Linked DNA regions of Homo sapiens. The protein of the gene in region 3 purifies or fractionates together with the protein of the main gene of each other region. This does not show direct contact. Each region holds a gene or a part of one and is shown on either strand. Other genes may lie near its edges. The genes, in order: HNRNPH1, HNRNPM, FUS, ZC3H18, HNRNPR, DDX17 and SF3B3.

Region 1 (3,497 bases), on a different chromosome or scaffold from region 3:
GTTCAGAGTAGATCTTTCATTGAGGATTGCCCTCAACAGCTTAACTACTTTCCTCACATTGGTGTCCAGCTAAGTACCTCAAGTTAAAGGTAAGATCCCTTTACCAGCAGATCATCAGTGCGATGAATTAGGTTGTTGTAAATTATGGCAAGTGTCTGTGTTGCAAGAGACACGTATTTGGGTCATGTGACCAGAAGCATCTAATGGTCTAATTCTCTTTAATGCAAAAGTCGGTTTATGAAAGACTTGGTTTAACCTGTGTGGTATAAACTTACTGAAAATCAGATGTAGTGAGAGTAGTTTGAATGCTTGTAGTCTCAGTATCTGAAATAAGTGTTTTGAAATTGTTCCTGGGCCTAAAGTATTTGAATGTTTTTATGCTGAAGAGCTGATAAGATTGCATGTTTAACAATGTTAGATAAGATATCGTATATTTTAAGTATTAATATTTATGATGTGATACGCTGGAAGCAGGAAATCCTTTCATGGTTTAGTGTAGTATGTTAAAAATTGATATATGTATCGAGTCCTAATGTCAGAATTTTTAAAATCAAGTCTGTTTTGTTTTGACACTAAATTGGTGAGAATTGAATGCTGTCAACGTTAAATATGAACATAATTTCATATCTTCTAGGAAAGTGCTTTAAGTCCTTTTTGTAAGCTTGGGAATGTATCCACGGAAAGGATTTTTCATAGACGGAATTTCCAGAAGTGAATCATAACTACTGTTAGAGCATAAGCATGCATGATTGTGCTGTGTAGATCAGTTTTGTTGAAAGTTTAGATTGTTGTGTTTGTCAATTATAATTTAATGTTTCAGTTTTTATATGAAATGTTGTAAATGTATACCTTTTTAAAAACTTGAAGTTCCAATAACTTAAAGCATTGAAATATAAAATGAGGTAAAAGGTGTTTTGAATTTAGTAAAACTGTTATTTAATGCTTAAAACTTAATTGAATTGTATAATTCTCAACATTAAGTTGCATAGATATGTGTTCTTAAGTTGTTGAATTCTTAATGCATCCTGTGTTCAGCAAGTTTTTTTTAATATATACTGTACCATGGGTGTGTTAAGAATAGTTATACTTTATAATAATGGAACTTCATATTATTGCAATGCATATTTAAAGAGTACTTGTTGAAAGCATACCATTCACCTAAAGTTAAAAATTCTGGTTTATTTAAAGCTATAAGAAGAATCATTTCTGGGCTTGTGATGTTAATATTGCCCCCCTACTGGGGTTATTTGTCCTTGGGTTGAAGGGTTGGAAATCGTGCCAAATGGGATAACATTGCCGGTGGACTTCCAGGGGAGGAGTACGGGGGAGGCCTTCGTGCAGTTTGCTTCACAGGAAATAGCTGAAAAGGCTCTAAAGAAACACAAGGAAAGAATAGGGCACAGGTGGGGATGGATGGTTGGTTGGATATGTCACTTTTCTTATGGTAAACAATTAAATCCATATTCTCTCTGCTTAAAAGAAGAAATTAATGTTTTGTAGTCCTAGGTAATTGATGTTTTGCCATGATTTCCAAACTTGTGTCAGTCCCACGTTACACGCAAACTAAATTTTAGGTTTGAAATTTGTCCCTAGTTAATTGGTCTGCTTGACAATTTTGTGAGTCTTATTAACCCCAATCAATAGAGTTGAGAGACTATGGCTTTAAAAAATTAATGCAAACCTGGCTTTAGCTGTAATAACACCCACCTAGAATAAATTAATATTACCATAAGAAAATGTGATACTTTCTGATCTTGTTTTTAAAGTTGAAATGCAACAAACTTTTTCTTGCTGTATATAAATATTCTGCATAGTATTAATAAGCATAGCTTTCAAGAAATTGTCACAAAAGGTTTTATTCTCTTTGCTTGTGACTATTTTTCATTGAAGCATGCGCTTACCTATGCTGATTCTTACTAAAAGCATAGGCTGGGGTATTTATTGGCGAAAGGAAATGTGTAGTGTGGGCTGGACTGTTGGTGGAGGCTGGCTTTTTAGCCCACTTGCTATACATGCTGCCAATGGATTTAAGACTTGAAATGTTGAAAGTTGAGTGGAATTATTTCCCTCCTAAAACATTTATTTACAGTACTCCTCTCTACCCCTAAGGTTGGGCTCTGCCTCAGAGGAGTGAGTTTTTTTTTTTTTTCTATAAAGTTTACATTGTCTTACTATTTATTGAGTGAATTTCTGGTCATTGCCTATGCAAATATAAGAAATCTGGCTTTAAATATTAGTCAGTTTCATGGCTATGACTAGATTGTTTTCTTGTATAACTAAATACCTGTATAAAATGAACTAATGTTTTCTCTCCCCTCCCTACCCCTTCCTTATGAACAATGCTTTAGGTATATTGAAATCTTTAAGAGCAGTAGAGCTGAAGTTAGAACTCATTATGATCCACCACGAAAGCTTATGGCCATGCAGCGGCCAGGTCCTTATGACAGACCTGGGGCTGGTAGAGGGTATAACAGCATTGGCAGAGGAGCTGGCTTTGAGAGGATGAGGCGTGGTGCTTATGGTGGAGGTACGTGAGGATTCGTAAGGTTCGGCAAGTCGTCTGTTCCTTTGTCTAGGTGTTTTATTTGATTGATTGTACTTTGTCTTTCAGGCTATGGAGGCTATGATGATTACAATGGCTATAATGATGGCTATGGATTTGGGTCAGATAGATTTGGAAGAGGTAAGGTAAGAATTGAATTTCTCAGTTGAAGGATGCTTACACTCTTGTCCATCTAGACCTCAATTACTGTTTTTCAGGAATGTCTGATCACAGATACGGGGATGGTGGCTCTACTTTCCAGAGCACAACAGGACACTGTGTACACATGCGGGGATTACCTTACAGAGCTACTGAGAATGACATTTATAATGTAAGTGTGAGATGAACTCACAAGTCAATATTTCAGTATGGCAGTAAGTCAGCCTTATTCTATAAATGTGAGCACTATGTTAGAAATTTTAGGTTTTTTTTGTAACGTTAGAAAGTTGGTTGAATTCTTTGAAATGCCTTGTGTTGTAGTTTTTTTCACCGCTCAACCCTGTGAGAGTACACATTGAAATTGGTCCTGATGGCAGAGTAACTGGTGAAGCAGATGTCGAGTTCGCAACTCATGAAGATGCTGTGGCAGCTATGTCAAAAGACAAAGCAAATATGCGTAAGTGTGATTGAGCATTTGTGGGCTCTTAACAGGTGATTGTGTGACTAACATTTACAATAGAGAAATGGAAAAATAAGGATATATGAGAAGTTTCCTCTCCAGTAATAGATTAATTCTTGGGGGATGCGGGGGCAGTGTGTTGAAGGTTTGGGTTTTAAAAATTAGTATAACGGATTTGTGATATGCACATCTTGAAGTGTATATCCTTAATTGACAATACAGATGAATATGTAAAGGCTAGATTTTGGAGTTAAAGTAGATCACCTAAGAGAAGTAGCTAGAATTTCTTTGCCAAAGTATTTGAAGTTCACAGATCTGCTTGTTTAAAAACTTTAT
Region 2 (3,500 bases), on a different chromosome or scaffold from region 3:
GACTAATGTTGGTTTTGAATTAAGACATTCAAACTCAAGGCTCCACAGGGCAGAAAGCATTCCCAAGGAAAGGTACACCTTCCTGGGCTCACAAAATACTCCTACGGACAGTAACAGAGACAATGGTGAGGCCAACTCCCTGACCAAGGTGTGTTAATTCCAAGACAGAAACAGGAGAAGAGAGGGATGATTTCTAAGACTTCATAGAATGGAAATATGAGGTAGTACACATAGGCCCATCCAATTTTAGCTTCACAAATAAGTGTCTTTCATAGTGTTAAAAAAAAAAAGGGGGGGGGGGCATAAAATGATGCAGCCGCCATGGAAAAGTTAGGTAGTCACTCAAAATTAAACACAGAATTACTATGACCCAGCAATTCCACTGCTAGGTATACACCCAAAAGAATTAAAAGCAGGGACTCATACACATATGCCAATGTTCATAGCAGCACTACTCACACAAGCCAAAAGGTAGAAACAACCAAGTGTCTACCAATAGATGAATGGAATAAACAAAACACGGACTATCCATGCAATGGGATATTATTCAGCCACAAAAAGGAAGGAAATCCTGACAAAGGCTACAACATGCATGAACCTTGAGGGCATTATGCTCAGTGAAATAAGCCAGTCACTGAAGGCCAAATATTGTATGATTCCACTTATTAAATACCTATAATAAGCAAATCCATACACAGAAAGTAGAACAGAGGTTACCTGGGCCTAGGGGGAGGTAGAAATGGGAAGTTATTAAATACTGAGCATAGAATTTCATGTGGGATGAGAATAAAAGTTCCAGGAATGTGCAGATTGCTGCAAAACATCATACTTCACTGCACACTTAAGATGGTTAAAATGGTCTATTTTATGTATATTTTAACCACTTTTTAAAAATCCAGAAAGGTGGAAAAGAAACCACTCCCTACACAATCCTACTACTTTGAAGCTGGGAAACTTGGGTCTGAGCAACCCTGGGAGGTGGAAGACAGCATGCAGACAATCCCACCTTTGGCAAAGAAGGGTGGCTGCTTTTCTGGCACGGCCTTCCCATTGCACTCTTTACCTTTGTGTGCTAGGTGCCACCACACTGTTAACACTAACCATCTCTAGGTAGCAGCCATCAGGCTTGGAAGCCCGGGCACTGGCTGACAGGGCGCTTTCCTCAGCTGCCAGCTCAAGCGCAACCCCTCTGACTACAGGGAGGCACAGATTAGAGCTGATCAGGAACAAGTGAGGAGCCAGAAGCCACCTCAAGTTTCTTAAGCAACTGAGCCTTGCACCTTCTGCTTCCCCAGCCCTGTGTGTCCCGCCAGTGAGAATCCAGTGACTCCCAGACCACGGGCTCTACTACAGAATTTGTAATCCATGACAAAACCGGAAAAAAAACCAAAAAGCCAAGACTACAGTATTAATGATTTATAAAAGTATCTTTAACTGAAGAGCCGATCTTTATTCTGGGATGTAACTTTCTTCCGTGGAAGAAACACCAGATAGTAGCTGGAGAAGCTACTATTTTAAAATGTTATTTAGTTGAGGCCAGGTGTGGTAACTCCCATCTGTAATCCCAGCACTTTGGGAGGCTCAGGCAGGTGTATCACTTGAGGTCAGGAGTTCAAGACCAGCCTGGCCAACATGCTGAAACTCCATCTCTACTAAAAATACAAAAATTAGCTGGGCGTGGTGGCACATGCCTGCAATCCCACCTCTCAGGAGGCTGAGGCAGGAGAATCGCTTGAACCCGGGGGGCGGAGGTTGCAGTGAGCTGAGACCGCACCACTGCACTCCAGCCTGAGTGACATAATGAGACTCTGTCTCCAAACAAACAAACAAAAGTATTCACTTGAGACCAGGTATGGTGGCTCACACCTATAATCCCAGCACTTTGGGAGGTCAAGGCAGGAGAATCTTACTTAAACCCAAGAGTTCGACAAATAAGACCCTGTCTTTATTTTTAAAAATAATAATAATTATCTGAGTGTGGTGTTGTGCACCTGTAGTCCCAGCTACTCAGGAGGCTGAGCTGAGAGGATGGCTCCAGTCCAGGAGGTCAAGATTGCAGTGAACTATGATTGCACCACTGCACTCCAGCCTGGTTGACAAAGCAAGACCCTGTCTCAAAAATAGTAACGTATTTACTTGGAAAAATTTTAAAGTCAGCAACTTTGTGTAGTCCCCAAACACAAGAGTGCCAAGTGGTATCCCAGCAGAGGTATCACTGGTGTGAGCCACACCCAAATCAACACAAGGTAAAACCAAGGAAAGCAGCTTCCTCTGTGATCTCTCAACTATACCAATACACAATCAACAGGCTTCCCTTCCCACGGGCTGGCAGATAAGGTGATGTTATGGCAGCTCCAATCCCTAGATGCCTAGAACGCAATCTACCTGAGTCCACAAGACTGGCTTCACACCACAAAGCAGGTCCCACAGGAGACCTACAACTGTTACCCAGGCCACTTGTCTACTCCAAAAGAAAGTCCTTCACCAAAGTCTGCCAAACAAAATCTATCTGCCAAATCATCTCCTACTCTTTCCTGGAAAATGACGACGACTGTGTTAGAAAAAATCATAAAACATAACAGAATCTACACATCATGGTCCACCAGAGGATTCACAGATGGAAATGAATTTTAATATTGTTACTTTTGAAGTCCCAAATACTTTAAGATTTACAATAAAAAACATTCTGACAGAGTCCATGATGAATTATTTCCAGTCTTTCACCAGACTGCTTAAGCTCACCTATAAACTACGAAATGTATAAATAAATAATTACAGCCAAAGCAGGTAACAAAGTGTCTAACCTATATTCCACAGGTGCATACCATGGCTACGAATAAACTATCCAATCTAACCACAGAAGCTGAGCATTTGGTTTGGGGTTAATCCACATCACATGACTCACCATTGAGAAAGCGGCTCTCACCATGCTTAATGGGCACAGCACCTCTGCAAACAAATCCTTCCCTGGCTAATCATTCCCTCTGAGAGGTTTCCTCAGTAAAGAGATTAGAACTATCTCTTGTCATTTCCAACTTTTAAAAAATTGACCTTTTTGGAAATCTACCACCACCAACTAATTCTTGACAGACTTGTAGAGAATGACCCTCAAAGAAATATCATTCGAGACACATATTCAAGCAGACTGGCCATGGTGGCTCATGCCTGCAGTCCCAGCAGTTTGGGAGGCTGAGGTGAGCTGAGTGCTTGAATCCAGGAGTCTTGAGACCAGCCTGGGTAACATGGCAAAACCGTGTCCCTACAAAAAAAATACAAAAAATTAGCCAGGTATGTTGGTGCACAACTGCGGTCCCAGCTATGCAGAAAGAAGACAGTCTGGCTCCAGGAGGTCAAGGGTACAGTAAGCCATGATTGCACCACTACACTCCAGCCGGGGGTAACAGCGGGAGACCCTGTCTCGGCAAGGGAAGGGGAAGGGGAAGGGGAGGGACATATTCAAGTTTAGATGATGTGATAGTATAAAAGTGATGTCCTGAAAA
Region 3 (3,500 bases):
TAGTCCCAGCTACTGAGGAGGCTGAGGCGGGAGGATCCCTTGAATTCAGGAGTTTGGGGCTGCAGTGAGCTATGATGGTGCCTGTGAACAGCCACTGCATTCCAGCCTGGGCAGTGTGTTGAGGCCCCATCTCAAAAACATAAAAAAAAAAACAAAAAACAAAAATGTTTATTGGTTTGTGATTCTGTTTCCATTTATTTTCTTTGGCTTTTAATTTTTTTGACTCTTCTTATTTTCCATCAGCATGAAAGAGAGCATATTTTCTAAAGGAAGAACCAGTTTTAGGCCAATTCTGAAATGGAGAAAATGGTTTTGTTTGAAAATGTATGAAATCATGTGATACATAAGGAGGTGGGATTTGCCCCAAGGTCCTGAAGTGTAACTAAGAAAGGTGGTTGTCCTGTAGATACTGCACGCACAGCTGCATATTACAGTGCTGTTAACAGGGATCCTTGGGCCTGGGTTTAGAGGGTGGTGCTGGAGATGGTGTTGGGATTGGCGGGGTGAAATTGGAACTGTACTAAAGAGTTGGTAGAAGTTGAAGCATTAAATTTAGGCTTTGAAAGGAGGGTAACTATCTTTGCCTATGAGTTGCAACATCACTAACAGCTTCTGAGAGGCTGGCTTTATGAGTATAGGTATTATGTTTTCTTTAACCCATTCCTTACATTTTCTCTTTCCTGGTGGCTTTTGTGACTCCCTTTTTCTTATCCTGGTAGCAGGCTATGGAACTCAGTCAACTCCCCAGGGATATGGCTCGACTGGCGGCTATGGCAGTAGCCAGAGCTCCCAATCGTCTTACGGGCAGCAGTCCTCCTACCCTGGCTATGGCCAGCAGCCAGCTCCCAGCAGCACCTCGGGAAGGTACGGTGGTGTTGATGTCGGGGAAGGCTTGAAAAGAGGGGTGAATTGATGAGGAATGATAAAGGGACCAGCAGTAGGAGCAGTTCAGAGGTGTAATTGGGGTAGGGGAGCCTGTGTTGGGTACAGAGAATGGACTCCACTAAAAGTGAAAGGAAATTGGGGGCTATGCTGGGATTGTGATTGTGTTTTTTGTTTGTTTTCCCTAGTTACGGTAGCAGTTCTCAGAGCAGCAGCTATGGGCAGCCCCAGAGTGGGAGCTACAGCCAGCAGCCTAGCTATGGTGGACAGCAGCAAAGCTATGGACAGCAGCAAAGCTATAATCCCCCTCAGGGCTATGGACAGCAGAACCAGTACAACAGCAGCAGTGGTGGTGGAGGTGGAGGTGGAGGTGGAGGTGAGATGTCTTCAGCTTTGTCTGCAGCCCATTTTCTTTTTCTTTTTTTTTTTTTTTTTGAGACGGAGTCTTGCTCTGTCTCTGTTGCTGAGGCTGGAGTGCAGTGGCACAATCTCGGCTCACTGCAAGCTCCGCCTTCCGGGTTCGCGCCAGTCTCCTGCCTCAGCCTCCCGAGTAGCTGGGACTACAGGCATCCGCCACCACGCCCGGCTAATTTTTTGTATTTTTAGTAGAGACGGGGTTTCACCATGTTAGCCAGGATGGTTTCGATCTCCTGACCTTGTGATCCGCCCGCCTTGGCCTCCCAAAGTGCTGGGATTACAGGCGTGAGCCACTGTGCCTGGTGTCTGCAGCCCATTTTCTATAAGGATTTGTATTCTCCTGTTTTAGCTTAAAAGAGGGTTCCTGTCTTGTTTCCTAGCTGTCTTTTTACTTTCTTTTGTCCTTCATTGCCTGGCACTTGTCAAACCTTTTCAAACCTTTTAGTGCTACTTTACAATCTTTTTGTTTTTTTTTTTTAATCATTCTTTCTTTTCTCACAGGTAACTATGGCCAAGATCAATCCTCCATGAGTAGTGGTGGTGGCAGTGGTGGCGGTTATGGCAATCAAGACCAGAGTGGTGGAGGTGGCAGCGGTGGCTATGGACAGCAGGACCGTGGAGGCCGCGGCAGGGGTGGCAGTGGTGGCGGCGGCGGCGGCGGCGGTGGTGGTTACAACCGCAGCAGTGGTGGCTATGAACCCAGAGGTCGTGGAGGTGGCCGTGGAGGCAGAGGTGGCATGGGGTAGGTGTCTCATGAGCCAGGGAGTATCTTTGGTGGGGAGTGTGGAGGATTGCATGAATCTCCCTGAAGCCAGTCCCTAGTGCATGGTTTAGTATTCTTGTTGTCTAGGGATCTGTGAGGGCTTTGATTTGGGGGCAGTGACTTTCTTTTTACATCCCCATTTTATTTTTGTGAGAACTTGGGAGCCTGAACTCCCATCCATACCACTGAATAGAGATTTTGAGTAATGATACTTGTTTCCAAAAAAAAAGAAACCATACATAGATACGTATGGATTGGAGTCATTAATATCCTAGGCAAGAAACATGGAAGTGAAGACTTCTTTCTCTGCAAGGGAAACCGATGATCCCACTCCTGGGAAATAGTAGGGAAACTTGGTATGTGTATTCCCATGTGTCCTCTAGGGAGTTGGTAATGGTTAACCTGACTTCAGCTTCCAGGAATTGGCTACTCTTCCCGTTTTCTATAGTCATTTGAATCCACGAGCTTGATTTGCACTAATTTGACCGACATTGATTTTGTGTGTGACTTGGTTTATGGGGCCAGCTGACTGAAGTAAGCAGACCTTTTGGGCAAAAATATGCTTTGACAGTGGTCTCCCACCTATTTGTTCCACTGTCTGCCTTCCCCTGGTTACTTAAAATTCATCAGCTTGTCCAACTGGACCTTCTTTCCTTCCTGCTGAAGTTGATTTGAAGTAAAACCTTAGATTTGATGTTAAAACAGTTGTCAAATCTGTTGGTAAATAAGATTTGAAGGACCCTACTCTGTCTCCCTTGAAAAAGGGGAGGAATGTCAGTGTTACTGTTTTTGGAAAAAGTAGATTTTTAAACCGAGTTTGGAAATGGTAAGTATGCAGAGGTGGGTGGGGGCAATCTCAAAAACGTGCAAAAATGAGGAAAACAAAAATGAGGAAATGTGTGCGTGTGTTTAATGCAAAACTTTAAAAAGAAAAACAACTGTTATGTGACTGTTAACTTGCTCTGCATTTTATGTGCCACAGGTATGAAAGGTGACATTGCAAAATACTCCGCTCTTCTCGCAGTGTAGAAGGGGTGACCCCGGGGGTTGGGGGAGATCAAAAACAGCTCAGTAGTTAGGACAGAGCTTAGCTAAGTTTGTCTTGCTTTAAGGGGAAGTTGCCTTTGGTTTTGACTTTTTATGGAATGGGGTTGGGTCTGCTTGCTGCTTTCAAAGCAAAAACCACAAAAATGTGTTCAAGGCTACCCCAGCCTGGTGTGAAATGTCTTCTGGGTAAATTGGGGTAGGGTTTTTAAACCAACTACTTGGTTGTCAACCACTTGCGACAAGAGGAAAAAAAAACATCTGCTCCATCGGAAGAACGACCAAGGAAAATGGGTTATTTTTTTTCCAGAGGAAATAGATAACGTAACCTTTTAAAGCAAAATCTTTATAAACTGTGTCTGAGAAATTGCACACGTGTGTGTGACATGCTCAA
Region 4 (3,500 bases), about 57 Mb from region 3:
GCAGACTCCCAGTCTTGAACAGTCAGTGCGTAGAGGCCTTAGCAGCCTTGGTGCTTTTCATCCTTGCTTTTGTTGCCTTGGGCTGCAGAAATGCTCTGTGCATCAAGCGCCCCTGTGATACTGTTTGGGGATCAGCTCCTTGACTTTCCCATTTTCAGCAGTGTATACCAGTTTAGGACTACCTTTAATAAAAAGACGAGGGTCTTACCATGTTATCTAGGCTGGACTCGAACTCTTGGGCTCGAGTGATTCTCCCACCTCAACCACACAAGTAGCCGGGATTCCAGGTACATGCCACCACTCCTGGCTTAGGACTGACTTTTTAATAATTCCTCCCAGTAGTCCTGTCTCTGGATAGTAACCGAATAGTGTACTTAGAAAACCAAAAAGTGAATCATTTTCAGAACTGTCTGCTTTTAAGTGACTTGGAATGGATTGGTTGGTTTGTAAATCTATGTTATTGCTAACCATTTAGGTTTTTTTTTTTGAGACGGAGTTTTGCTCTTTTTGCCCATGCTGGAGAGCAATGACACAATCTTGGCTCACTGCAACCTCCGCCCCCCCGAGTTCAAGCAATTCTCCTGCCTCAGCCTCCCGAGCAGCTGGGATTACAGATGCCCACCACCATGCCCAGCTAATGTTTTGTATATTTAGTAGAGACAAGGTTTCACCATTTTGACCGGGCTTGTCCTGAACTCCTGACCTCAGGTGATCCACCCGCGTCAGTCTTCCAAAGTGCTGGGATTACAGGCGTGAGCCACCACCCTTGGCCCATTTAGTTTTTATAAAGTGATGAATTTTAAATGATTTGAATTTTCTTTTGAGACGGAGTCTCGCTTAGCCACCACCTAGGCTGGAGTGCAGTGGTGTGATCTCGGCTCACTGCAACCACTGTCTCCCAGGTTCAAGCGATTCTCTCGTCTCAGCCTCCCAAGTAGCTTGGATAACAGGCACCTGCTATCATGCCCAGCTAATTTTTGTATTTTAGTAGAGACCGGGTTTCACCATGTTGGCCAGGCTGGTCTTGAACTCCTGACTTCGGATGATCCACCTGCCTTGGCCTCCCAAAGTGCTAGGATTACAGACGCGAGCCACCACGCCTGGCCAGATTTGGGTTTTTTTGGCTTTTTTGTTTTTTGTTTGAGTCAGGGTCTCACTCTGTCACCCAGGCTGAACTGCAGCCTCAACCTCCTAGGATCAGGTGATCCTCCTATCTCAGCCTCCCAAGTAGCTGGGACGACAGGTGCCCTACCACACCCAGCTAATTTTTTTTTTTTTTTTTTTTTTTTTTGGTAGAGATGGGGTTTTGCTATGTTGCCCAAGCTGGTCTAGAACTCCTGGACTCAAGTGATCCGCCCACCTCAGCCTCCCAAAGTGCTGGGATTACAGGCATGAACCACCGCACCTGACCAATTTGTTCTAATGTATCTTTTTTTTTTTTTTTTGAGACGGAGTCTCGCTCTGTCGCCCAGGCTGGAGTGCAATGGCGCGATCTCGGCTCACTCCAAGCCCCGCCCCCTGGGTTCACGCCATTCTCCTGCCTCAGCCTCCCGAGTAGCTGGGAACACAGGCACCCGCCACCACACCCGACTAATTTTTTGTATATTTAGTAGAGACGGGGTTTCACCGTGTTAGCCAGGATGGTCTCGATCTCCTGACCTCGTGATCCACCCGCCTCGGCCTCCCAAAGTGCTGGGATTACAGGCGTGAGCCACCGTGCCCGGCCTCTAATGTGTACTTAATCTTAATGATTTCCATTAACAGCAAAAAAAAAAAATGTTTAACTGTAGGTTGATACCAATTCTTGATACTGTGCATCTTTAAACAGGTTGTATTAAAAGTATAAATTTAAAAGATGAATATTTTTATCTTTAGTGTGTATGGTTATTTGAGATACAAGACATATAAATGTGTATGTGTATGACTTGCTGCGTCCGTAGTTATCTTGAGATGAATAATCTGTTTCCAGACCTTGCCGAGATGCCGAGCAGTGTGACCGTGACATACGTTATTTTAACAGCCTCACAGACTGAACAGTCAAGTGACCGCTGACCTGGCACTGTCCCTGCTGCTCCACACTCACTTGGTGGTGACTAGCTGCCCTGGTAGTGGTGGTGTGGCAAGTGTTTGCCAGGCAGGTGTTGCCGTTCTACACCTTCCTACCCGTCTTAACACCGTCCACTTTTAAAGCATGGGTAGCAGTGTACTTTCTATGAGTTTTTGAGGAGGGAAACTCGAAAATATTAACTTTATAATTTAATCTGGATTAGTAAAAATAGGAATGAAGTCTGAAGTGACCCCGTCTTTTTTTGTTTTTTGAGTTTTTTTTGGAGATTGGTCTCACTCTGTTGCCCAGGCTGAAGCACATTGATGCAGTCTTGGCTTACTGCAGCCTCCACCTCCTGGGCTTAAGCGATCCTCCTGCGTCAGACTCCCAAGTAGCTGGGAATATAGGCACGCACCACCACACTCTGTGACTTAGTTTTTGTTTGTTTGTTTGTTTTTGTTTTTGTTTTGAGACGGAGTCTCACTCTGTCGCCCAGGCTGGAGTGCGGTGGCGCGATCTCAGCTCACTGCAAGCTCTACCTCCTGGGTTCACGCCTTTCTCCTGCCTCAGCCTCCTGAATAGCTGGGACTACAGGCGCCTGCCACCACGTGCAGCTAAGTTTTTGTATTTTTCATAGAGACGGGGTTTCACCGTGTTAGCCAGGATGGTCTCGATCTCCTGACCTCATGATCCACCTGCCTCGGGCCTCCCAAAGTGCTGGGATTACAGGTGTGAGCCACCGCGCCTGGCCTGAATTTTAGTATTTTTTTTTTACAGAGACAGGGTCTCACCATGTTGCCCAGGCTGGTCTCGAACTGCTGGGCTCAAATGATCCTCCCGTTGCAACCTCCCAAAGTGCTGAGATTGTAGATGCGAGCCACCGTACCTGGCCAGCCTCGTCTTTTACATACGCGCGGTACTTAAGTGTGTCAAGTTTCCTGCCAGAGTTCTTTTCGACAGCAGCTACCTGTATGGGAAGAGGGGTTCTCAACTTAGGAGTGTGAGTTGCTGAGCGGGTGAACACAGCCCTCTCGACACCTGCTGGAGGGGCCAGTGAACACGCAGGCAGGGCTCTGAGCCTGCATTGCTAAAGGGCAGCCAAGGGATTCTCGGAGGCCCTCAGAGGCTGGCCTTCGAGAAGTGTGTTCAGTAACAGAAAAGGCTCCAGACTTGGACACTGCCGAAGGCTGGCCCAGGTTCCTGCTTCAGGATGACTCCAGAAAAATGGTGAGATCTGGGCCTGCAGTTTTGCTTCCTCGTTCCATGATACAGTTTATCTTTAATTTCAAAAGTAAATACTCCTCTAAGAATTCACACAGCTGTCCTTTGCGATCCGTATCGTTACTCACTTTCTGTTAACTCGTGTGGGCTGCCCTTGAGCGGGGAAGGGCTAGGCCAGGCTGCGTCTCCTTCTGCCACATCTCATTTTGCCAGATTGCCAAAAACGGGAGGC
Region 5 (3,500 bases), on a different chromosome or scaffold from region 3:
GCTCTAAAATCAAATGCTTATGTTGGATTCTAATAAGGGGGTTTTATTTCAGGTATTTGTAGGCAAAATACCAAGGGATTTATATGAGGATGAGTTGGTGCCCCTTTTTGAGAAGGCCGGACCCATTTGGGATCTACGTCTTATGATGGATCCACTGTCCGGTCAGAATAGAGGGTATGCATTTATCACCTTCTGTGGAAAGGAAGCTGCACAGGAAGCCGTGAAACTGGTATGTGATAATTATCCACTGTCTTAGCAAGTCACTATTTGAGGAAATAAACTTTAATTCAAAAATGTTTGTAGTTAACATTATTTTGATTTCTTCAGTTGTTGCTTGGAATGTTTTTATACTGACCAAGTTGGTATGTGACGTTTATTTTTCTCTGACTATAAAAGTAAAAAAGAACTGAAAATACCCAAAAAGTAATGTTTTATAGAAAGTCTCCCATTGATTTAAGAAGTTATCTATTAGATTGATATCAGAAGTTTCATATGAGTATTTGGCTTATGCATTTCTGTCTTTTGGTTTTAGGCAAAAGGATGTCAATTCTTGATGTTAAACTTTAGGATTCTTAAAGTATAATGAAGACTGGAATGGGCTGTGGGGAACATAATAGTGGATGACAGTGACTTAGGATTCAATTCAGAAAATAGTTGTGAATCTGTTTTATTTTGGTTACAGCCTACTCATACGATTTATTTCATATTTTCTAAGTGTATTTTTGTTCTTCCTGTATGTTTCTTGGCCCTTGAGTCTTCTCTGTCTTTAATCTTTCTCTCCTCTCCTACTATTTATAGCCAGTCTCATATTAATTTCCTTTCTCTAGGGCCTTTAACCACTTGGTGCTCATTTCAGACCAGTAGTAGTAGCAACAAAGTTCTGCAAATCAAATGTATCTTCACTCCTGCTGTATTTAAGACACAGCTATCTCAGTATCTTAAAATAACAATGTAATTATTTTTTGGCATACCCTTGCCTGACTTCTGAGGACCTCACTAAGTCTAGTTCTAGCCTTTGTAGAATGGTCAACTTCTTTCATCAAGGCTTTGGTTTCATTACTGGTGTCTGAATTAGTTCCACTCCTAGCTTGACCCAGATTTTAGTTTTTATTATGGATTTTTTCTTCAAACTTGTTTATTTAATATTAAGTTTTCATTTTTGGCAGCATATGGATGATTTTATTTTTAATAATCATATCTCTTAGTAAACTAATGGTTAAATAATATTAAAGTATAAGAAGCTAAAATTGGCCAGGTGTGGTGGCTCACGCCTGTAATCCCAGCACTTTGGGAGGCTGAGGCAGGCAGATCACCTGAGGTCAGGAGTTCAAGATCAGCCTGGCCAACGTGGTGAAACCCTGTCTTTACTAAAAATACAAAAATTAGCTGGGCGTGGTGGCGCACGCCTGTAGTCCCAGCTACTTGGGAGGCTGAGGCAGGAGAATCACTTCAACCCAGGAGGTGGAGGTTGCAGTGAGCAAAGATCATGCTACTGCCCTCCAGCTTGGATGACAGAGCGAGACTCCATCTTAAGAAAAAAAAAAAAGGGCTACAATTTATCAAGAAAATCCACTATAGTGATTTAAATAAAACATTTTTCAAAATTTTATAAAATTTTGAAAGTATTGTGTTTGGTAGACAATTTAAAACTATATATTTAGAATTCTGTGACTTCTGTAGAATTTGAAATTTTTCTAATATCTTTGCATTGATTAAACATAGTTGTTACCCTTTACATATTGTTATTTTGAGTATGGCTTACCTATATGCAATTACATTTCCAAGGACCCTGAATGATCAGTCTCAGGTATTTTTTTCTGAAAAATCTGTGGAAAAACATTTTCAGATAGATAAAATTAAAATATGAAATAAGATATTTTAAACAATAAAGTGAGTCCTTTTTATATGGAAGAGTAGTGAAGGTTAACAAAACCAAACTAAAACAAGAGACTGTAACAATGAAGTTTAAAATATACATTCATATTATGGAAAGCATGAGGGAACTTGGTGAGTTGATGAAGCAGGGAGCGTTTGGCCTTAAATTGTTGAATTTTTTAGATTAAGATCAATTGTCCTGAGTTTGGGGTGGTTTTGGGGTCTCTGGTTCTTTTCTTATTGCAGTGTGACAGCTATGAAATTCGCCCTGGTAAACACCTTGGAGTGTGCATTTCTGTGGCAAACAACAGACTTTTTGTTGGATCCATTCCGAAGAATAAGACTAAAGAAAACATTTTGGAAGAATTCAGTAAAGTCACAGGTAAAACAAAAATGTATTTAGAAATTACTTTTGCGAAATATGTTGTACTACTTACAAGTGCTCAAAAAAACTGAGGGGTTGTATGTATTAAATTAAGAATTCAGGTCTGAAGTATCTAAATTGCTTCCTTTCTGCTTTATAGTGGTTTGGGTTTAAGCAAGTTCCCTTATATCCTTCATTTCTTGGAATGTCCCCTTCACTTCTTTGTCTTAATTGAACCTTGGCTTTTGCTGGAGCTTTTGCTCTATAGCCCTCAAGTGAATGCTTTTTTTCCCCTTGACAATTAGTGTATTTTAGGACCAAGAGGATGAAAGTTTTTACTCTCTCCCTGCTGCCTTGTCTAGATCAGATTTTTTTTTTTTTTGAGACGGAGTTTCGCTCTTGTTGCCTAGGCTGGAGTGCAATGGTACGATCTCGGCTCACTGCAACCTCCGCCTCCTTGGTTCAAGCAATTCTCCTGCCTCAGCCTCCCGAGTAGCTGGGACTAGCATGTGCCACCACGCCTGGCTAATTTTGTATTTTTAGTAGAGACGGGGTTTCTCTATGTTGGTCAGGCTAGTCTAGAACTCCCGACCTCTGGTGATCCTCCCGCCTCGGCCTCCCAAAGTGCTGGGATTACAGGCGTGAGCCACAGTGCCTGGCTGATCAGATTTTTTTAAATATCCAATTCTAAATCCATGGAATTGATTGAGAAGTAGATTTTATATCACAGTTCTATACACATTTATATATAACTGAAACAATTTAACAAAACTGTACTTTTATTTATTATACATGATTTATTTTGATATTTCTTATTCTATTTCATTTTTTAAAATGCCAATTGTGATCTAATACTACCTATGATTTAAAAACACTGCGTTAGACCGCTGCCTCCCCTTGTAAAAACCACTGTTTCTTTACATTTTTATCATCCAGACATATCCTTTCCCTTTTGTTGAAGCTGTCATTCGTTGCTCTTGTGGTTTCAGCCTTTCATTAATCTAAAGATTGCTTCTGGCTCACTGTCTTCCTCTTCTGCCCTAAATTGGCTTCTTTCTAATACCTTTAACATCTACATTGGTGAACCATCCAGGGCTTTAGACTCCTACCTACTTCTATGTCTACCTCATCTTTAGTCCTTTACTTCAGCTCCACCATATCCAGATTACATTCTGGATCTAGTCACCAGAAATTCTATGCACTCTGAACTCTTGATTTCTAGCGTCCCACTTTGTAACCACTGCTACCACCCGCTATATTG
Region 6 (3,500 bases), on a different chromosome or scaffold from region 3:
CATATTTTGTTTAAGAAATAAAATGTGGCCGGACACAGTGGCTCACGCCTGTAATCCCAGCACTTTGGGAGGCTGAGGTGGGCGGATCACCTGAGGTTGGGAGTTCGAGACCAGCCTGACCAACATGGAGAAACCCCGTCTCTACTAAAAATACAAAATTAGCCGGGCATGGTGGCATATGCCTGTAATCCCAGCTATTTGGGAGACTGAGGCAGGAGAATCGCTTGAACCCGGGAGGTGGAGGTTGCGGTGAGCTGAGATTGCGCCACTGCACTCCAGCCTCGGCAATAAGAGCGAAACTCCATCTCAAAAAAAAGAAAGAAAAATAAATAATATGCATACCTTTTGGGGGGAAATTCAGTTCTTTTCATTCTACATCTTTTGAACTTGTTTCCTACTGACCCCCAACTTTTGGTTGTGTCTCATTTGGGAAATAACTTTAAGGGGAAAAAAATCTAGCTCATATTAATTATGTAACAAATTGCCACACTCTCTTAACGGTATTTCATTATTAGTAGAGGTAACTATTGTGCTGCTGAATATGAGTGTAATAAAGATTTTCAAAAGAATCACTGTCAGTCATTACAAGAGCTTGGGATTTTCTGGCACCATTATTTGAAATTTTAACATGGTTATGTAAACAGATCAGATAGCAAGGAATGCTTATTTGATGATGATTATTGTTTGTTTTTACAGAGTTCCGTTCTGGAAAGGCACCCATCCTTATTGCTACAGATGTAGCCTCCCGTGGGCTAGGTTTGTATAGATAGGTGTCTCTGTCAATGGTATATGTATCTTTTGGTTTAAAGATTCGTCATTTCAAATTCAGACTTCAAGTTTAGAAAGTTGTATATACATGTGGTTAGATAAATATTTGAAAGAAAAAAATACAAAGCGTGATTCTCCCCATTCCCTGCCCCCCCCACAATTTTTTTTAACTTTGGTTTCCCCCACCCCCCTTTTATTTTCAAAGTCTCTTCCTGCTCCTAACAAACAGGCTTTGGTCTGCAGCAAGGCCTAGGCATGACTATTCAAACAGAGGGAGAGGAGACAGACAGCTGAATGGCTCAGCTTCTCTCTGGTGGTGGTTTCTGGCTGGATAGAATAAGCCTGACGAAACCTAGCTATTGTAAGCTAGTTTCTTCAGTTATTCTTTTCCCTATCCCTGTCTAAGCTAGATATATACAGAGAGGTCCAGTTTTATGAATGCTTATTAGATGGAATTTTATAAGTCTAATGCAGTATCAGAATAGCAAATATGTGTATTGCCCAGTTTAATTTACTGAGGTCAAATTATCATGGGCACTTGGCTATCCCCTCCTACCCATGCACTTATCTGTAGGTGTGTTATCAACTGATGATTTTCTGGAGTTTTTGACCCATTACCATTTAAGATATACAGAGAATTTTATGGTAGTTTAGCCCACTATTCTGAGCTAAACAGGTCTAACTCAGAACTTCTATATTTTAAAAAAAAAGATTATTTGTATTACAAGGAAATCCTTAAATTATTGACAGGTATTTAATTTGCCCAGTAAGGTGAGAAGTACCATATTATTCCCTTATACTATATAATATAAAGAGAACAGGTATTCAAACTGGAATACAAAAGTAATGAAGCCTTTTTATGCATTGCACTCATCATTCCCTCCTTCAGAGGTGGTGACCTGCAGCCATGATGGAAAGTTCTCTCTGCCCCTCTGCCCTCTGAGGTCATGTCTGGATCTGTGCCATTAGAACTTGGGCCTGTTGGGAGAGGAGGCGGAGGCCTGAAAGCAGTTTACATAAAGCTTTCAGTAATGGTTGGTTTTTAAACAGGCTTGCTATGTGCTGGTAGCTTCTTTGTGCATCTTGCCTAGACAATTAAAAATATTTGCTCCATGTCCCCTTGCATTTCTAAACCAAATTAATTGGCTACCATTAGAATAACTTAGACTCTTCATCCCACCCCCACTCATCCAAGTGAGGGGAGAGGGAAGGTACCCGAGTCTGTTTCTTGTTACTCAACATCAGTGCTTGTTTTGGGCCCCTTTGTTTGCTGCCTTGTAAAAAATCAAAAGAGGGAGAAAACCCACCAAAATGGCAGAATTCTGACCAATGTCCTACAAGATCCTGGAAAGTGAAGGCTTCTACCTCATAGACAGGGGTGCAATTTTCAGCTGAGTCACCAGGGCCTTTTTTCACTTCCTGTCAAGCGATGGTCTCTTAAATGTTCCCTTCAGGTAAGTTCTTTGATTCCCATAATTTTATAATAGTCATCCTTAGGCTACCACTTCCCTTTCCACTGGGATATTTTTTATTTTTCCTTTTTTTTGTTTGAACTACACACTGTTAAACTAAAAGTATTGAATTTATTTTGTTTTGTTTTTTAACAGAAGCTTTGATATCAGCTGCAGATCACTCAATACATGGCCGAGACAAATCTACATTGGCCGGAAGCAGCTCTAGATGAGCCTCTTGGCTAGACTTAGTCCCTCCTTATTAGTGATTGGCGATTCAGGCCATGTCATAGGGCCTTTCAGACAAAAGGTTCTTATCCCAGTCAGCTGGCCAAAACATTAACTTTGGATTTCTTACCCTGCTACAGCATCTTCTAGAAAGGCAGCAAGATAATATTGTGGCAGTGCACAGATAACATCAGGGTAGACTTGACTGGAGAAAACCAAATTCTGCGCTTGCTCCTGTGTGCCCCCATCCAGCTGTGCATGCACACACAGGACACCTTTCTAGTATGAAGAACTTGCATCATGTCTGCCCTCTATTGAGCACCCCCTTCTAGAAATACTTCCAAGTATTAGCATGTGAACTGTTGACTCCACCCTGGTGCTTTCTGCTAGGAAAGCACACTTAACGCATCCAGTGTAGTAATTGAACTTGTTCTACTGCCATGGTCATATGCAGTGGGATTGCATAAGGAGCATTATCCTAGCTCTGAAGATACCATGGAGTAGAATTCCCCACCCCCTGTCTTACATCCACCCTGGCCCTGTAAATTCTTTTTTCCTTTGTTGCGTCAACGACCCTAGCCGGAGACTCAAGCTGCCCCCTGTGATAAGTGCCTTCTCGTCTTTCTGGTGTGATTCAGGACTTTAGGGGTCAGTAAAGACCGAGGAGCCTTTATTGTAATAAGAAACAGACATAATGCCCCTTCTTCACAAGCCCTGTAACAACAGCTAATTTTTTTTTTTTAATCTCCCCTTTCTCCCTTGAAATTAATCCAGTCTGGGCAATAGATGCAGTCTGACCCTTTGGATGTAACTTACATTTTTTTTTATTAATTATTTTTTTCTACAATCACCCCAATTATCCTTGGGGGAGGCGTTGGAGGACCTGAAATTTTTACCCGAACCCAGGTTCTCCGGCGCTTGGCAACCAAATGGGGCTACAGAGAAGCATCTAAGCCAGTTCACAGAGCGAGCGTGTGTGGGGACTTCTCACTGCCACGGACCCTTGATGCATGCTCCCCGCGCTCCAGTGGTCCCGTGTCAGAAGGCGGAGTT
Region 7 (3,500 bases), about 39 Mb from region 3:
GTGTTGCTCAGACTGGTCTTGAACTCCTGGCCTCAAGTGGTCCTCCTACATTGGCCTCCAAAAGTGCTGGTGGGAATGCAGGCATGAACCACCGTGCCTGGCCAGTTTTAATGTTTTATTAACTCTGTATATCTGAAATCATTCTAACATGTAGTTAATATAAAAATTGCTGAGCTATTTCACCTTTTTTTCTCTCTTTTTTAAACCAAGTCTGAAATCTGGTATTGGCACTTTACACTTAGCAGTCTTAGTTCTCTTTAAAATTTTATTTGTCTTTATTTAAAAAAAATTTCTTCCTTGACACAGAGTCTTGCTCTGTTGCCCAGGCTGGAGTGCAGTGGTGTGATCTCAGCTCACTGCAGCCTCTGCCTCCTGGGTTCAAGCGATTCTCATGCCTCAGCCTCCTGAGTAGCTGGGTTTATGGTGTGCACCACTACGCCCGGCTAATTTTTCTTGTTTCTAGTAGAGATGGGGTTTTGCCATGTTGCTCAGGCTGGTCTTGAACTCCTGAGCTCAAGCGATCCACCCGCCTTGGCCTCCCAAAGGGCTGGGATTACAGGTGTGAGACACCATGCCTGGTCCTGTCTCAGTTCTGACTAGCCACATGTGGCTTGGGGTAGCTATAGTATCGGATATTGCAGAAGAAGAAGTTGGTTAGATTCAGATTTAATTATTGGGGGAGGGGGACAGGAATACTTAATAGGTGGTGCTGTTTACTCCTGTTGCATCACGTCAGGAGGAGTGTAGTGTCTGGTTGTCCCACTCACAGTGATGTTGGGATGTTTGTCTGTATCTGTGTTAAAGTTCCCGTCAACCCTTTACTTACAGCTATTACACACATTGCCTAGGTTCATTCTTTCATTAGTGGTTGGAAAATGATTTATTTCTTTTTGGATTTAATTAGTTGGAATTCTAAAGACAAAATTCGCATCATTTCTTTGCTTACTATAAGTACGGTTCATACAGGAAAAGGATAAATAATTTTTTTCCCATTGTTCACCTGTTTTCAGAGTAAGGAGTGAGGGCCACAGCACTCCTTTCAGTGGGGCCCAGTAAAGTGGGTTTTTTGCTGTTTTTTAGAGTAACATTGGTCAGGTGCTGTGGCTCACACCTGTAATCCCAGCGCTTTGCGAGGCTGAGGTGGGTGGATTGCTTGAGCTCAGGAGTTCGAGACTAGCCTGGGCAACATGGCGAAACCTCATTTCCACCAAAAATACAAAAAATAGTTGGGAATGGTGGCTCATGCCTGTAGTCCCAGCTACTTGGGAAGCTGAAGTGGGAGGATTGCTTGAGCCTGGGAGGTGGAGGCTGCAGTGAGCCAAGATTGTGGCACTGTACTCCAGCCTGGGTGACAGAGTGAGAACCTGTCTCAATAAATAAATAAATAAAAATTTAAAAAAATAGAGTAACATCATAAACTTGTGGATTTTTATACATTTGTGCTGAAAACTCCTTTTTTTTTTTTTAAACAGAGACAGAGTCTCGCTATGTTGGCCAGGTTGGTCTTTAGCTCTTGGCCTCAAGCAGTCGTCCTTCCTTGGCTTCCACAGTGCTGTGATTACAGATGTGAGCCACCTCACCTGGCTTCTTTTTTTTTGAGGGGTGCGGGGGGGTGGTAAATTGACTCATTCTAGAAAAGTGGGAATTTCTATTTGAAGTTAGTTCTTTTGTCCTTTTAACATGACCCCACTATTTGTAGGGGTTTCCTTGCCTTGTTGCACAATAAAGTATCCCCACATGTGTCTGGAACATTCTTGCCCCTGCCCCAAACTAGTCATTCCTTTTAGGAACCTTGTTCCTTTAAGAGGAAATGCTGTTTAGGGACCATGGTCTTTGTGGTTATTTAATTATTTATTTGAAATATACAGTAGTGAAGAAGGATTTAATATACTTGGTAAAAAGAAATATTAAGAAGATATAGTGAAAAATAAGTGTGTATTTACTTAGTAGATGCTCCATAACTTTGGATGATTAAGTGATTTACTGAGAGAATGAAATGAATGGCTATCGGATTATTAGGATCTTTTTTAAACACCCAAGTCATTTCTTTCTATCTGCTCTAATTTCTTATGTGAAGTACCCAAGGGAGAGGTTTTCCCATCATAGCTGATAAGCTTCCATCAGGCTTCACCTGCTCCTCTCCTTTTGATTAGAACGGTGTGCTGCTGAGGACTGTCTTGGACCCTGTCACTGGGGATTTGTCTGATACTCGCACTCGGTACCTGGGGTCCCGTCCTGTGAAGCTCTTCCGAGTCCGAATGCAAGGCCAGGAGGCAGTAAGTAATGAAGGTTGGGGACAGGCAACATCTTTGGGATTTTAGTGGCACCATCTGAGAACAATCTTTGCTGTAAGCTTCACTGTCACTAATTTGCCACTCCATCTTGATTGGTTTCCTTCATGTGAGAAGTCCTGAGTTTTCCTAACCTAGAGCTTCCTCACTGGGGCTCCATCGCACCATGTCATGATTTGGTTATAGCTGGGTAGAGATATCGATCCCTTTAGCCCTCTGGCTGGTCAAATAGGGCTGGAAACCTCCCCTCTAGGACACCACTAGCCATGAGAATTCTCAGGTTTTATCCCAGTCTTAGATCAGTGTCACGTTTACTACCTAATGTGAAAGAGACTGGGAAACATTGTGTCCTTTGTAGTTAAGAATGTTAGTGTTTCTGGGCACTGTGCTAATTGATTCCATTTAATTCTGTTTTTTGTTGTTTTTTTTTTTGAGATGGAGTCTCACTCTGTCGCCCAGGCTGGAATGTAGTGGTGCAAGCTTGGCTCACTGCAACCTCCGCCTCCTGGGTTCAACCAATTGTCTTTCCTCAGCCTCCCGATTAGCTGGGATTACAGGCGCATGCCACCACGCCCAGCTAATTTTTGTATTTTTAGTAGAGATGAGGTTTCACTATGTTGGCCAGGTTGGCCTCGAACTCCTGACTTCAGGTGATCCGCCTGCCGTGGCCTCCCAAAGTGCTGGGATTACAGGCATGAGCCACCGCACCTGGCCTTCATTCCATTTAATTCTTGCAGCTGTCCAGCCTTGTGGTACTGTTTTCATTTTACACACGTGGAAGCAGGCTTAGAGAGATGAAATGGTGAGTCTAGATCATATGGCTCGTAGCCCATGCTTTTCACATATGCTAAGCCATAGTGCCTCTCTCTAGCCCTCTTTTTCTTAAGATAGCCTGTTATATTTCTAGAATATCTTAGGATACTCTGCAGACTGAAATTTGGGGATAGGGCTTTTGGTCAGCTTATACCATATTTGTATTTTTTCCCAAACCTTATTGGAGCTGGGTTTTTTTTTTCCCCTCAGGTATTGGCCATGTCAAGCCGCTCATGGTTGAGCTATTCTTACCAATCTCGCTTCCATCTCACCCCACTGTCTTACGAGACACTGGAATTTGCATCGGGTTTTGCCTCGGAACAGTGTCCCGAGGGCATTGTGGCCATCTCCACCAACACCCTACGGTGAGTGAGTCTCATGTTTGAAGCTCAGCAG

The links.
Region 1: the proteins of FUS (region 3) and HNRNPH1 purify together in Homo sapiens (affinity purification with mass spectrometry; 4 studies listed by BioGRID and IntAct, with this or other methods). This does not show direct contact.
Region 2: the proteins of FUS (region 3) and HNRNPM purify together in Homo sapiens (affinity purification with mass spectrometry; 4 studies listed by BioGRID and IntAct, with this or other methods). This does not show direct contact.
Region 4: the proteins of FUS (region 3) and ZC3H18 purify together in Homo sapiens (affinity purification with mass spectrometry; 3 studies listed by BioGRID and IntAct, with this or other methods). This does not show direct contact.
Region 5: the proteins of FUS (region 3) and HNRNPR purify together in Homo sapiens (affinity purification with mass spectrometry; 4 studies listed by BioGRID and IntAct, with this or other methods). This does not show direct contact.
Region 6: the proteins of FUS (region 3) and DDX17 purify together in Homo sapiens (affinity purification with mass spectrometry; 5 studies listed by BioGRID and IntAct, with this or other methods). This does not show direct contact.
Region 7: the proteins of FUS (region 3) and SF3B3 purify together in Homo sapiens (affinity purification with mass spectrometry; 3 studies listed by BioGRID and IntAct, with this or other methods). This does not show direct contact.

The regions. Positions count from the first base shown.
Region 1 is NC_000005.10:179,617,175-179,620,671, reverse strand, and holds part of HNRNPH1 (heterogeneous nuclear ribonucleoprotein H), read left to right. Parts: intron 1-1,264; coding exon 1,265-1,403; intron 1,404-2,348; coding exon 2,349-2,527; intron 2,528-2,611; coding exon 2,612-2,683; intron 2,684-2,739; coding exon 2,740-2,873; intron 2,874-3,022; coding exon 3,023-3,158; intron 3,159-3,497. UniProt on the Homo sapiens protein: This protein is a component of the heterogeneous nuclear ribonucleoprotein (hnRNP) complexes which provide the substrate for the processing events that pre-mRNAs undergo before becoming functional, translatable mRNAs in the cytoplasm.
Region 2 is NC_000019.10:8,451,475-8,454,974, reverse strand, and holds part of HNRNPM (heterogeneous nuclear ribonucleoprotein M), read right to left. Parts: intron 1-3,500. UniProt on the Homo sapiens protein: Pre-mRNA binding protein in vivo, binds avidly to poly(G) and poly(U) RNA homopolymers in vitro. Involved in splicing.
Region 3 is NC_000016.10:31,183,139-31,186,638, forward strand, and holds part of FUS (RNA-binding protein FUS), read left to right. Parts: intron 1-719; coding exon 720-864; intron 865-1,070; coding exon 1,071-1,258; intron 1,259-1,800; coding exon 1,801-2,041; intron 2,042-3,500. UniProt on the Homo sapiens protein: DNA/RNA-binding protein that plays a role in various cellular processes such as transcription regulation, RNA splicing, RNA transport, DNA repair and damage response. Binds to ssRNA containing the consensus sequence 5'-AGGUAA-3'.
Region 4 is NC_000016.10:88,573,403-88,576,902, forward strand, and holds part of ZC3H18 (zinc finger CCCH domain-containing protein 18), read left to right. Parts: intron 1-3,500.
Region 5 is NC_000001.11:23,320,285-23,323,784, reverse strand, and holds part of HNRNPR (heterogeneous nuclear ribonucleoprotein R), read left to right. Parts: intron 1-52; coding exon 53-229; intron 230-2,121; coding exon 2,122-2,257; intron 2,258-3,500. UniProt on the Homo sapiens protein: Component of ribonucleosomes, which are complexes of at least 20 other different heterogeneous nuclear ribonucleoproteins (hnRNP). hnRNP play an important role in processing of precursor mRNA in the nucleus.
Region 6 is NC_000022.11:38,489,312-38,492,811, reverse strand, and holds part of DDX17 (probable ATP-dependent RNA helicase DDX17 isoform 1 precursor), read left to right. Parts: intron 1-696; coding exon 697-756; intron 757-3,500. UniProt on the Homo sapiens protein: As an RNA helicase, unwinds RNA and alters RNA structures through ATP binding and hydrolysis.
Region 7 is NC_000016.10:70,558,316-70,561,815, forward strand, and holds part of SF3B3 (splicing factor 3B subunit 3), read left to right. Parts: intron 1-2,153; coding exon 2,154-2,276; intron 2,277-3,314; coding exon 3,315-3,469; intron 3,470-3,500. UniProt on the Homo sapiens protein: Component of the 17S U2 SnRNP complex of the spliceosome, a large ribonucleoprotein complex that removes introns from transcribed pre-mRNAs.